2 linked regions of the Homo sapiens genome follow. The protein of the gene in region 1 interacts with the protein of each later gene in a pairwise test. Each region holds a gene or a part of one and is shown on either strand. Other genes may lie near its edges.

Region 1 (7,109 bases):
CAAAACACAAATTCTCTGCAAACTTTCACCTGACAAAAATTCCCACCCTTAGTCCCCCAATTTTCCACAAAAATGTTGGGACAGGCAGGAATTTGTATGGCACAGGCTCAAAGCTGAGAGGTAAGAATGGCTAGCTCCTCAGATATGCTGTCTTGGACAGTAACACATCCAGTAAGCAAGCCAAAAGCACTTTTGACTTTGAGTGCTACCAGCAAACTGCGAGCCAGGGACTTGCCAAGAGATACTCAGGCCTCCTCCACTTTGCAGGAGCCATTTCCACCCCTGGGGGAGACACCAGGTTTCATTCCTCCCTGGGTCCTCACCCAGGAACAGGGCTGACCCCTGGTAATCAAAGATTCACCCCTGACAAAGGGCTCACTTCACTAGAAAGCAATGTTTTTCCCTGTGTTTTCTATAGCAGACTGGGGGGCCAAGCATCACCTGACTCCATTTATTCGCTTTAGCTTATATAGAAAGCCTCATTCTGCTTTGTCAGCCAAAATATTTATATCACTTTTTTGTCGACTCAATACCATCCTCACCTCAGCCTTCCTCCTTTCCTTTTTAAGAAAGGAGTTGTCGCCAACATGTTTCTCCAGTTCTTTGCTGTTCATGAAGCACTTTCTAGTCCATTAACTCATACGATGCTTTCAAAAAGCCTGGAAGGGTTTAAGGATGGCCTGTCCTCCCACTAAACAGATGAACAAGTAGAGGCTGTGTCGGGGTCCCAGACCCCAAGGCCTTCCAGGGCTAGGCAGGCCACATACATGATTGAAACAGGATGAGGCTGGGGACAGATGCAAACAGGAAAGAATCTGTGAAAGACTCACAAACTCCAAACTTTCTGAACCCTGGGCTGGCAAAAAGATAAAATAACATACAAGAGAAGGGACCCACTCATCTTGTGGCCCTTAGTCTGTGACTCAGTTTACACAACTTACCCAGCATAGCACTAATAATTCGTACTAGTTATAAAAAGTAACGTGTATTTAAAAAGTAACATGTATGTCAAGAGTTTACAAAGCATTTTCAAACTTGTTATCTTATGTCATTCCTGTGAAGAATCATTACCAGCCCATTTCTCAGATGCAGAAATTAAGATACGGAAGGACTAAAGAACTTGTCTGTGGACTTGAAAGTGTGTAAGCAGCAAACCTGTCCCAAACCCAGGTCATCATCCAGGAACCCCAGGGCCTGCCTTGCCCCACTGCCACGTCACTTACACTGCTGAGAGACACCATCCAATCCAGCTGCCTAGCCACAGGCGTCTCCCCTTTGAAACCTGATCACTCCAGGATCAGGCAGAGAAGCAGGTCATCCAGCCCTGCTTTGATGACAACCCCAAGGGTATCTAATTATAACAGGGAAGGGAGGAGTCAGGATTCTCTCGCTATTTCTCAAGACCAAATTAATTTTAATTCCTTTTGATACAGTGTATACACACAGGGCAGGAAAAGCACTGGTTGAGGAGTGAAGAAATCTGAGGCTTTTAGTCCCACTTCCGCTTGTTCACTGAGGTCTTGGGTAAGTCACTCCACCTTCTTCCCAAGGCCTCAGTTTCTCTGTCTCTCTCTCTCTCTCTCTCTCTCTCTCTCTCTCTCTCTGTGTGTTTGTGTCTCGATAAGGAAGGAAAAACTGGCTTCATGTCCCATGGGGTGCGTGTGTGTGTGTGTCGATAAGGAAGGACAAACTGGCTTCATGTCCCATCTAAGCCCAACTGATGGGTAGCATTATATAATACTAAGGACTCTGAGGCCGCTGGCCATACTCAATGGAAAGGACTACCATGGTCAATTAGTGATGTCTGCCACAGGCTAGAGGATGGGGAATGGCAGCATGTATGCTACTTATTTACCATCCTTGGACTAGATGATGCACAAATAACATGCTGCAAGTGAAAAGAACTTTGCCCTTTACAAAACTTTTTTCTTACATCTCTCACAACTTTCACAAGAACCCTATGCATCATCATCTTCAATCATCATCATCAATATATTATCATCTCACCTTTACAGGTAAGGAAAATACGGTGCAAGGAAATGAAGTACTTTGGCAAACACCACAAAATGATTAACTGGTGGAGCAGAGAGGGGAGCCGTGCCTTGGCTCTCCGACTATGCTCTGCTCATTCTACCCTTGGAAATGTCAAACTGGTGCTCCGCTGTTGTCGGGCCAGCTCATGCATGTGGCTGTACTGAAGAGACCCCCCTCCCCCATTTACAGGACTTCACCTCCCTCCCACGGGCTACTTGCCCCTTTTAGAGAGGCCACAGCAAAATTACAAAACCTACACACAGACATGGCAGGAAAGTAGGACTAAGTCAGAGTTCCAGATGTTTCTTCCCAAGGTGAAGTCCTGCCTTCACTGTACAGGGCGGGGGGGGGGGGGGGGGGGGCCAAGCCCAGAGAAAAGTGAGGTAAACAGAGCATGGAGCCCCCACAGGTCATAGTCCTCCCCACCAGGAGGACAACAACACTCAATCCCAAGATGCTTTCAACTGATAGATGCACCATCGATTTTATAACAGCTTTTGGAGAAGAAATAAGAGGGAGAAAAAGTTCACTAGAAGAACAAATCTACTGTAAGGGGCATCCTGATTTCAGAAATATGGAAACGTGGGAATATGAACACTGAGGATCGATGTCTACCTTAACTTAGGATTCTATGCTTGCTTGCTGAAATTGGCCACAAAGTGTTAAAAATGACAGCATTTTATAAAACGTGCTGAAAAAAACTAAGCCAAGAAACAGAAGGTTCTGTTTTCTCCCATAAATTTTCCTTGAATCTTTGACATCTGCAAACCAAAATTCAACCAAAAATGGGGTCACATCACACATTTAGGTGCTTCAAGTTGAAGGAGCCCGTGTGCCTGGATATTCTGCAAACAGGCCCCTGGTGTTCAGTTCCAGGACACCTGGCTAAGAAGACCAGGCATAAATACAGGGCACTGCTATGCCCCATTCACCATACCTGCAAATCAGGCATCTGGGGGTCCCCCATCCACTTTAAAGAAATACTTTATACAAAAGGAGTGAGGAGGGCAGGGGTGAAAGTCATCAGACGAACATTTTAAAAATCCCCCAAGACATGTAAAGGAGCATTTCCCCAACTAAGGATCCCTGTTGGACTTATTATTCCAGGGGAGCCATGGCTTCAGAGCCAGCTGTAAGAAAATGTGCCTCGGGCTCCCTAATAAAACATTGGCTTTGACCAAATGGCCAAGCCCAAATTGGTCATCCACTCTTCACTAGACCCAAAGCCCACTGATCTGAGCTATTTCCAAAAATCAAATGAAGTCATCAAATATTTATGGAGCTGCTGCTCTGCGCCAGACCCTAAAATGAATAACCGGTGATCTCTACCCTCACAGATGTTACAAGTTGGCTGGAGAAGCAGAAATGCAAACAACCAACTCTGACCTGTGGGTCCACATTGTTTGGGAGGTACCATGGGGGCAGAGGGAGAGGAAGCCTACCTGGGGAAATTTGTTGGGGGAGCTCTACAGAAGAAGAAGTGCAGCTGATCTCGAGGAGGGTCTGGTTTCTCACGAAGCAGATATGAATGAGGGAAGGGGCACCAGAGGCAAGGGCCCCAGCATGAGCAGAAGCTCAAAGACATACAGGTCCACCCGCGATTGAGATGTATCCCTTTTAAAGCCTTGCCACAGGCTCAGAAACAAATCCAGAAACATTCCAAGGAGCTAGAGCAGCCCCGGAATGAAAGCATCCAGAATGCTTTAACAAGAAAGTCTCATGGATGGCAGGCTGTTTTAAAGCAACAGCCAAGAGTGTACATTCTCACTTGTCGCCTAACTTTGCCTGCTAACGATAAGCCACCAGGTTTCCAGGACTACCCCAAGTGTTGTCAGTGGGACTTAATCTCCCCAAATGGAGAATCCCTGGCCACTGGGTTGAGTCAACTCACATGCGTCGACCACCTACTCAGGCCCTCAGACCGGCTGAGAGTCTCCACATGTGACCCCTTCATTTAATCCTAAAACAACCCTGCAAGGCTGGGATCATTAACCCTCTTTTCCCAGATGTAGAAGCTGTGGTTCCAGAACCAGAGTGACTTTCCCGAAGTCACACAAAGCTAACCACACCATGAGGCTGGATTTCAAACTCTGGTCTGGCAGACCTCAAACCCAGCTTTCCATTTTCCCAATTGGGGTGGATTCGGAAAATCTCTATGCATCTGACCTAAGGCCTGGCCTGGGGGGATTTCCTGCTGATGCCATGTTTTTGGCTCAGAAATAGATTTCATTGCCAGGCCATCTTTTACCTCTGATCTCCTTCCTCTCCTCAGACCCCAGCCCTGGTCCTGGCCACCTGCTGCCTTTTTGCAACTTCATCCTTCTCTCTGGCAACACTTTATTTAAAATGCACTTCAAAAAGCAACAGCCTCCCGGACTCACACTCCTTGACTTCAACAGCTCACAGGCTGCAACACATCATCCCGGAGTTACTAGCCATCATTTGTCATTTTTAACTACAGCACAGTGGCCTAACCCTGGCAGAAGTCTGCGTTGGGACAAATAAAAGGGAAATGTGGGCTACTCTAGCCAGGAGAGCTATATGGATGGAACTCATCATCACTACAGGCTGAAATGCCTCAGAGCATGTGAGATTCTGATAGGAAGTCTCACCAACAAAACCAAGAGGTCTGAAAGGTGTTGCTACCCTTCTGGGGCCAGCCAGTGATGACGACAACTGGTCCAAACCTGAGCTGTCCAATATAGTAGCCACCAGCCACATGTGGCTGCTGAACAGGTGAAATGTGGCTGGTCAGAATTGAGATGTACTGTAGGAGTAAAATACATTAGATTTCAAAGACTCAATAGCACCCCCGCAAAAGACTGTAACTTGTCACATTAATAATTTTCATATGGATGGCTTGATGAAAGGATAGTATTATGGATATACTGAGTTAAATATGTTAAAATCAATGGCACCCGTTTCTTTTACTTTCCTTAATACACTGTGAGAAAATTAAAAATTATATATGTGGCTCGCAACGGGGGCTTGAATTATATTTCTATTAGCGCTGACCTGACACATTTAAAAGATGAGGAGACTAAGACAGAAATTCTGGGATTTTTAAGGAAGTGCACACACACAAAAATACAGACTGTGTTTTTGTCTGATTAAATTAAATATAGCACAAACACAGACTCTCTAACTCCAGAAAAATTTCTCTGGCAATTTAAACTAAAAGTGGGGAACAAAAGACAAGGACTCCACACACTTTAGATCTCCTCTCCAGCAAGAAGACCTTGCAAAGACGCTGCCTTCAAACTTGTATCTGCCTTTCCATATGTCCTTCCAGACTCATCCAAGGCCAACAAGCTGGGGTATGTGCCTGGGCTGCCCATGTGGCTGAGCTTTCTTCATATGTGGCCCTTGAAGTGGGCTCAACCAGGGCTCAAAATATGTGGCACAGGACACCTAACCCACAGGGTTCACCTAAAAGTTAATTGAGATAATAAATGCAAAAATAAAGTATAAGCAATAAAGTGCAGTATACCTGCAGCACATCATGGCGGTTCAGCTAGTCCAGTACCTTTCAAACTCTTTTGGCCGTGACCCACAGGAGGAAATCTATTTCAAATCACACACATACATCCACAAATATAAATACAAGTTTCATGAGAGGATACTCACCTGTACCCTGTGGTATGCCTCTGCTATTTTTTGTTCCCCTATATTCTAGTCTATTCTTGTTTTTAAAAAATTCTGATTGTGATTCACTAAATTGACTTCACAGGCCACTAATGGCCCATGATTCAAGGTCTCGCCTGGGAATGGTAACTAAGAGGTACACTCTCCACTCTGATTTACAATGCTGTTTGGCCACTGCACCCCTCTCTCTAGAATATGGGAGTCGGGATATGGCCTCAGAATCCTTCTCAACACAGTGATCCAGGCAGCCATAACCAATTCCTTGGAGTTACAATCAGAAATGAAACCTATTTATTATTATCCTTGATCTGATCCCAAGTGTTCATTTTATAAATGCAAAAATTGAGGCTCTGAAGGAAAAAGTGATTTGTCCAAGGTCACACAGCAAGACCTTGTGGGGGCTAGGGCTCCTGAAAAGAGCCACTTCATTTTACATCACCAGAAAGAAGGTACAACTGACCCAAAACATCACAAGAACATGGAAAAAATTCAAAATTTCCTCATGACCATGAGAAGTCGGCTTATATACATCAGTCATATATGGCAAGGAAGTTCTTATCACCCACCAAGGAGAAGACGTAAGGATTCTGAGGTCAGAGGAAGCAGCATGCCAAGAGCTGAGTCAAAAGTGAGAAAAATATTGTATCTGACACTGGAGGAGTTTTAAAACCCAGTTTCTCAAGTGAAACAAGCCATTGGCTGTTTATTTTCTAGGACGAGGGAGAGGTCAGCCTTATACTGACCAGCCATCTTTGTTGCTTTCGTTCTGCAAAAGCAAGAACCCTTGTTCAAGTTCACCTCTGTGCAGAGCTGGAAGTATAAGCAAACCTCTTTTCCTAGCTTGCTCCAAAGTCAAACTATAAAGCAGGCCCTTGAAATTTCAAACCTTGTTAGAAAAAATTAAAAAAAAAAAAAAACCTCCTTAGGCAGAAAAGCAAAACATTAAGTAATAAGAGTCTCCACTGTGAAACTGAATATAAACGATCTTTCGCCAAAATAATTCAGCCCATCATCAAATTACCACCCCCAAGTCCAATTTGCCAGATATTTTGCCCAATAATCTACGAGAATGTGGTGAACAGACAGGAGCTAATAAAAATTAGCTCACATGTCCATTTCTGGTCACACGTCCACCTAAAATAGGAGGTGAGAGAGCCAAGGCCAAGGTCAGATCTCAATCCAGAGAGAGACACCAATAGAAACAAAAGAAAACTGGCCCCGCCCCCAATAGAACCATCATGCACCTCTACTTCCTTTACAACAAACATGATCAGAATAACCAATTTAAAAAAAAAAAAAAAACAGAAAAAAAAAAAAAACAGTTCTACAAAACCAGAAATGATTTTCAACTTCTAGCCATAGACAACAGAACAAAATTTCAGCAGAATGGAATGAAGGAAGCTGAATTGTGTGTCAGGAGATCCAGGCCA
Region 2 (6,678 bases), about 15 Mb from region 1:
ACCCATGTGCTGAGGCAGCTGATGGTGGAGCCCAGCTGGGAGGGAAGGGGAAAGTTGAGAATGGTGCCCATTGTGTGCCAGGCATACTGCAGGGCATTTACTATGAACTAAATTGGTTAAGCTGTTAGTAGTCTTCTGAGGTAAGTGTTAACTTCATTTTTTTTTTTTTTTTGAGATGGAGTCTCGCTCTGTCGCCCAGACTGGAGTGCAGTGGCACAATCTCGGCTCACTGCAAGCTCCACCTCCCAGGTTCATGCCATTCTCCTGCCTCAGCCTCCCAAGCAGCTGGGACTACAGGCACCCGCCACTGTGCCCGGCTAATTTTTTGTATTTTTAGTAGAGATGGAGTTTCACTGTGTTAGCCAGGATGGTCTTGATGATCTCCTGACCTCGTAATCCACCCGCCTCGGCCTCCCAAAGTGCTGGGATTACAGGCATGAGCCACCGTGCCCAGCCCTTTTTTTTCTGTTTTTTTTTTTTTTTTTTTTTTTTTGAGAAGGACTCTCTCTCTCAGAGGCCAGGTTGGAGTGCAGTGGTGCAATCTCAGCTCACTGCAACCTCCGCCTCCCAGGTTCAAGCAATTCTCATGCCTCAGCCTCCCCAGTAGCTGGGATTACAGGCGTGCGTTACCACGCCTGGCTAGTTTTTGTATTTTTAGTAGAGATGGGATTTCGCTGTGTTGGCCAGGCTGGTCTCGAACTCCTGACCTCAAGTGATCCGCCTACCTCCCTCTCCCAAAGTGCTGGGATTACAGGCATGAGCCACTGTGCCTGGCTGGCCAGGAATAATGATATCTTTTTAAACAAATATGGGTTGAGTGTGATGGCTCACAGTTGTAATCCTAGCACTTTGGGAGACTGAGGCGGGAGGATCGCTTGAGCCCAGAGGTTGAGCAACATAGTGAAGCTTTGTCTCTACAAAAAATTTAAAAACAAATTAGCCAGGCATGGTGGCACAGGCCTGTAGTCTCAGCTACTCGGGAGGCTGAGAGAGGAGCCCTCGAGGTCAAGGCTGCAGTGAGCCATCCATGATTGTGCCACTGCACTTCAGCCTAGGCAATATAGCGAGACCTCATCTCTAAAAAAAAAAGGAAGTATGCTTTTGCTGTTTTGTAGCATGCTTTTTCAGTTAATATTCACTGTGGCTGACCAGAAGGCTTGTCTCTACTGGGAATAATTGCCTGTGGAATTGTTCTGTGGATTAAATGAGTGAGAGGACATATTTAATATTCTAAGCATAGCCCAGGCTTTTAGTAAGTGCCCTGTGATGGTCACTCAGCACATCCACAAACCCAAGGCTATCATCTGCAAAGTGTGTGAAAAGAGTTTGAGCCATCATTTATAAATCTGGAGAGCTTATTATATAAAGGTTTGGGTTTCCAGCTTCTCTTTAAAAAATAGGAAGATCTGAGGATGTTGGCTGGCAGCAAACAGGCTCCGCCCCTTTACCAGGCAAGGCTGTCCGGCAGCCTGGTGCCAGCCCTGGTGCTCACACCTGGCATGCTGGGCCCTGCTGTTCTGAATTCACTTCTGACCCACTGCGTGGTGCTCCATGGCCGGCAGCCAACACAGAGTCATGCCCCCCACCCCCCACGCTGTCTCCCCAGCAAGAGCAGAACATCAAGCCTCAGTTCTTTGCCTTCCGCTGGCTGACACTGCTGCTGTCCCAGGAGTTCTTGCTGCCTGACGTCATCCGCATCTGGGACTCCCTCTTCGCCGATGACAACCGCTTTGACTTCCTCCTCCTCGTCTGCTGCGCCATGCTCATGTGAGTGCGGGCATGAGCTGTCATCAGCTCACCTGGGCAGTCCTTGGAGAAGCCAGACAGGAGGACCCTCCGCCCCGAAGGGTGGGCAGGGCTGCTCTTTCATGGCTGGAGTGGGATTCTGGAGTCCTTGGGAGGGCGACAAACCAAACTTGAGGTGGGTAGGGAGGGAGGAGTGGGCAGGGCCTGCACTCAGAGCATCCCAGGTCCCAGCGCTTTTGCTGCTGCTTTTCATAGGCTGATCCGGGAGCAGTTGCTGGAAGGGGACTTCACTGTGAATATGCGGCTGCTGCAGGTAATGGGAGTTGGGGGCAGGCTCAGCCACTGCCATGAGGCTGGCACTCGCCAGGCACCTGCCCACGCCAGCTGCTGCGACAGGCTGGGCAGGGGCAGCGGAGTGTAGTAGGGATTAAAGTCCAGACCCCTGAGCAGATCTGGTTTGGATCTGGGTTTGAATCCTGGTTCTGCCACTGACCTGGAATGTTGGGTGGCCTTGAGCAAGTGACTTGGCCTTCAAACCGTGTACTCTACGTAGGTGTTCACACCTAGGACACAGCAGGTGCCCAGAACATGGCCGTGCTTGCTGGTGGCCATGCTCAGGCCCGGGGAAGGAGGGTGGGGTGTAGTGATTAAGAACATGGGCTCACCGGGCGCGGTGGCTCATGCCTATAATCCCAGCACTTTGGGAGGCTGGGGTGGGTGGACCACCTGAGGTCTGGAGTTCAAGACCAGCCTGGCCAACATGGCGAAACCCCGTCTCTACTAAAAATACAAAAATTAGCCGGGCTTGGTGGCATGCACCTGTAATTCCCAGCTGCTTGGGAGGCTGAGGTAGGAGAATCACTTTAACTTGGGAGGTGGAGGTTGCAGTGAGCCAAGATCGCATCACTGCACTCCAGCCTGGGGGACAGAGCAAGACTCTGTCTCAGAAAAAAAGAACATGGGCTCAAGGGCCTACAGCTTTAGGTCCACAGTTTTGCTCTGCTGTGCTCATCATGTGACCCAAGCCAAGTTACAGCATCTCTGGGTCTCAGCTTCTTCACCAGCACGTGGCCTTAGTGTTGCTTTGTTGTTGTTTTTTTTTTTTTGAGACAGAGTCTCGCTCTGTTGTCCAGGCTGGAGTGCAGTGGTGCAATCTCGGTTCACTGCAACCTCCACCTCCCAGGTTCAAGTGATTCTCCTGCCTTAGCCTCCCGAGTAGCTGGGATTACAGGTGTGTGCCACCACGTCTGGCTAATTTTTGTACCTTTAGTAGAGACAGGGTTTCACCATCTTGGTCAGGCTGGTCTCGAACTCCTGACCTCAGGTGATCCGCCCACCTCAGCCTCCCAAAGTGCTGAGATTACAGGTGTGAGCCACCAAGCCCAGCCTAGAGTTGCTTTTCCCTAACTTCATGGACCAGATCTGGAAAAAGTGCAGAATCACAGTGGCCACTCACAGGGCTGTTGGGACTTCGCGCTGATGCTCAGACACTGGCCCAGTCCTACTGGCTCCACACGAGGGAGCTCGGGTTCAGTGGCAGTAGTGGGAGAGCTGAGGCAGCACGGTCTGGTCCTGAGGAAAGGGCCGCAAGAGCCTGGGAGTGGTTGTGTTTGGATCGTTGAGTTGGTGCTGCATGGTGTAGCGTCAGCTGCATGCAGGGGTCTGGGGGTTGGGGAGTGTGGGATGCCTGGTGTTCTGTGCTCCTGCCCCTGAGGCCCAGGATCCAGCATGGCAACGGGTCCCAGCAGGGAGGGTGTGGGTGTGGCAGGGGTGAAGTGGCTTCAGAGGCAACTGTTGGCCTTTTCCTGTGCCCAGGACTACCCCATCACAGATGTCTGCCAGATCCTGCAGAAAGCCAAGGAGCTCCAAGACTCAAAGTAGCCCGGCGGCAAGAGGCCCATGTTCCGGAGAGAAGCCTCCCGACCCTGTGCCCTGGCTCCCGGGACACATAGAAACCTGTAGGAACCCAGCCTGAGGGGAAGCCACAGGATCGGCCCGAGACCCAGGCCATGCCCACTGGGGACACACTGTGCCGTGCTCCTTCTGCCGCCACGCCCAGCTCCCCACCTGCCCTGCACTCTGCCCTCTTTGCCCAGGATACTGAGGAGGGCTGGAGCTCGGGAAGTTGTCCTTCCTGGGCCAGGGCCGTTTCTGGCACTGGGAGGCTGGCAGGGGCCCCTCCCTGCCTCGGCTCTGCCGCCCCAGCCTCAGTTCCTGCTTCTGGTCTTCTCCTGGGCTCCACTCAGGGGAGGTGCTTGGCCAATGGGCCAGAAACCGCTTCTGAGCGGGGCACTTCGGCTGCTCCACAGGGAAGGCGACACTGAAAGCTGAGTCCTGCCGTCTGTCTCACCCACAGATGTCTGTAGTCGGTCGGTGTGAATGTGGGCCCAAGTCCCCAGGCATCTTCTCCGTGTGTGTGTGTGTGTGTGTGTGTGTGTGTGTGTGTGTGTGTGTGTGTTAGGGAGTGAGGGTCTCTCAGGCCTCCAGGTCTCCCAGCCCCTCCTTCTCTGTCTCTACCTCTCTGCCTGTCTCCTTCCACCTCCTTCCCAGAGTGGGACTGTGTCTTGCTTCATGATTCCTCTCTCCATTACTCTCCCTGCCCTTCTCTGTTGGGGTGCCTTATCCTGAGCCACCTCCTCTCCCCGCTTGCCTCTGCTCCCCTGAACCTGGGAGACAGATGAGGAGACTGGCTCAGCAAGGCCCCTGGAGGTCAAGCTTGGCCTTTGCCTCCTGTTCCCATCCCCCAGCCCTGGCTCCTAGGTCCTCCCAACTGGGAGGGAGTCCTCCGTGCCTCACTTAGAGGGTTCTGAACCCGTTCCCTACACAGAAATCTTGGAAACCAAATGCTGCTGAGTAAGGATGAAGCTTTGAGCCTCCTGCCCCTGCTTTCTGCCCAGGGAGGGAGAAGGAAGAGGGGGAGCTGGTTTTTCTGGAGGTTCCCCCAGAGGCCCTCCTGTCCGAAAAGAAAAGGACCTTGATTCTGAGCCCAGGGTCGGAACCCATTGCTTCAGAAGAGTTGTCATTCCCTCGGCTTCCAGGTCCCAACCCAGGGTTGGGTTGAGTGAGTCCCACAAAGGGCAAGTGGGGCCCGAGGAAGCCTCTCTGGGGCCAGGGGTAGCTGAGCTTAAAGGCCCTGGGTCCTGCCAGTTCCAGGAGGGCCATGTCTGTGCCTCTGTGTACCCCTCCACCCGCTGCGGGCTGAGGGAGGTGCAGGGCCTTCTCTGACCCCTGCCTGAGCTGTTCCCAGGGCTGGAGCAGGTGTACCCTGAGCAGGGGCAGCTGGCCACTCCCAGTTCTCACCAAGTCACCTCCCTCCTTGTACAAGGTTTGCGTCCGGAAGCCGGGTGCCATAGTGAGGACCCTCGTCCTCCAGACTGGCTGGCAGGAGTCAGGCCCCAGCAGCCCTCCTGCCCCCAAAGCTTTCCGAGTCTGGTGGGCAGGACTTCTCGCTGCCCTTCCAAGCCCGGCTTTGGGCCAGGAAAGGCTTCCCCAGGTGGCTCTTCTACCAGGCTTTTCCTTTGATGCCGCCTGGATTTCCGCACCTGCCTGTCTCCTCTCCCAGAGCACAGTATTTGGGAGACTTTGACTATTTATTCAGACTCCTGGCTATGTATTGCACATTGGCAAGTGCTCTGGGGATGAGGCATGGGTATAGGAAGGGAGAAAGGAGTTGGAGACAAGATCCTCTTCATTTTCCAAGATCAAAGTCAGCCTCTTCTCCCCATGCTTCTAGGAACTGCCTGGTTTTCGAGCAGGTCCTGGCTGAGCGGGCTCTGAGTTCTGTACTGGAATTGAGTGTAAAGATGGGAAGAGAACTGGGCTGACTCCAGGACCTCCAGGATGAGGCAGAGGCATGATGCTTCCTGCTCACCTGGGCCACCCTCTCTCCAGGACTTGTCAGCTGGTGGTTCAGCCCCTTCTCCAACCCCTTCATAAGCTTGGGCCACTGCCTGGGACCCAGCAGACACTGCCCAGGACTCTTTAGTGCACTCACTCTTGTCTGCCCCCTACCTTCCCTCCTGGAACCACACTACTTGAATCACCATTACTTTGCCTCGCTGGCAGAGTTGGGTCAAGTGCCCTCTCCTTGACCTTGAGATGAAGGTCAAGAGCACAGGGACCAGGCCTTGGTTAGGCTGAGCTCCCAGCAGGACACCGCCTGCAGAAAGGACCTGCCCTGATAATGTCCCTTCCCCAGATTCTCAAGCAGATGCCCAAGGGAGGTCCCCACAGAGCCAGAGTGCCTGAGGCTTCCTGCTTGAGAACCTGCCCCCTGGATCTTGGACACTTACAGATTGAGCTGTATGAATTCAGCGGGTCTCACTCCAGAGGGTCAGAACGTTTGCTTTAGTTTTTTCATCTGTTTTGTTCCTTGAGTCAGTGCTGTTGATGACGAGTTGTCTTGAATAAATCATGTGTTCTTTGCAATGGGCATTGGTGCTGTGATGAGCTGAAACTTTGGAGACCTCAGAACAGGGAAAAATGAACAGGGATGGAGTCAGAGTCTCTTAGAGTAGCCCTTCTAAGAAAAGGTCCAGGAAATCCTTCTGGGAAGAGCCTGTTGGATTCTTCCAGTTCAGCCTCAGCAGTCTGCAGCTGGGGGAGGAGGGAGTGAGTACTGGCTAAGGAGGTTCTGCATACATGATTACATAGCCTGTTATTTTTCAGATTTAAAAAAGCTTAGACCATCCATTATATGTGGAAAAAGCATTTGACAAAATTCAACATCTTTTCCTTATTTTTAATTTAATTTTATTTTCTTTGAGACGGGGTCTTGCTCTGTCACCCAGGCTGGAGTGCAGTGGCACGATCTCCACTCACTGCAACCTCCGCCTCCTGGGTTCAAGCGATTCTCCTTCCTCAGCCTCCCAAGTAGCTGGGATTACAGGTGCCCGCCACCACACCTGGCTAATGTGTATTTTTAGTAGAGAC

Evidence for each region.
Region 2: the proteins of ZNF618 (region 1) and TBC1D13 interact in binary tests that used the Homo sapiens proteins (3 or more experiments, as listed by UniProt).

Annotation. Positions count from the first base shown.
Region 1 is NC_000009.12:113,879,270-113,886,378, reverse strand, and holds part of ZNF618 (zinc finger protein 618), read right to left. Parts: intron 1-7,109. UniProt on the Homo sapiens protein: Regulates UHRF2 function as a specific 5-hydroxymethylcytosine (5hmC) reader by regulating its chromatin localization.
Region 2 is NC_000009.12:128,804,253-128,810,930, forward strand, and holds the end of TBC1D13 (TBC1 domain family member 13), read left to right. Parts: intron 1-1,606; coding exon 1,607-1,767; intron 1,768-2,001; coding exon 2,002-2,059; intron 2,060-3,561; coding exon 3,562-3,627; 3' UTR 3,628-6,178; downstream 6,179-6,678. UniProt on the Homo sapiens protein: Acts as a GTPase-activating protein for RAB35. Together with RAB35 may be involved in regulation of insulin-induced glucose transporter SLC2A4/GLUT4 translocation to the plasma membrane in adipocytes.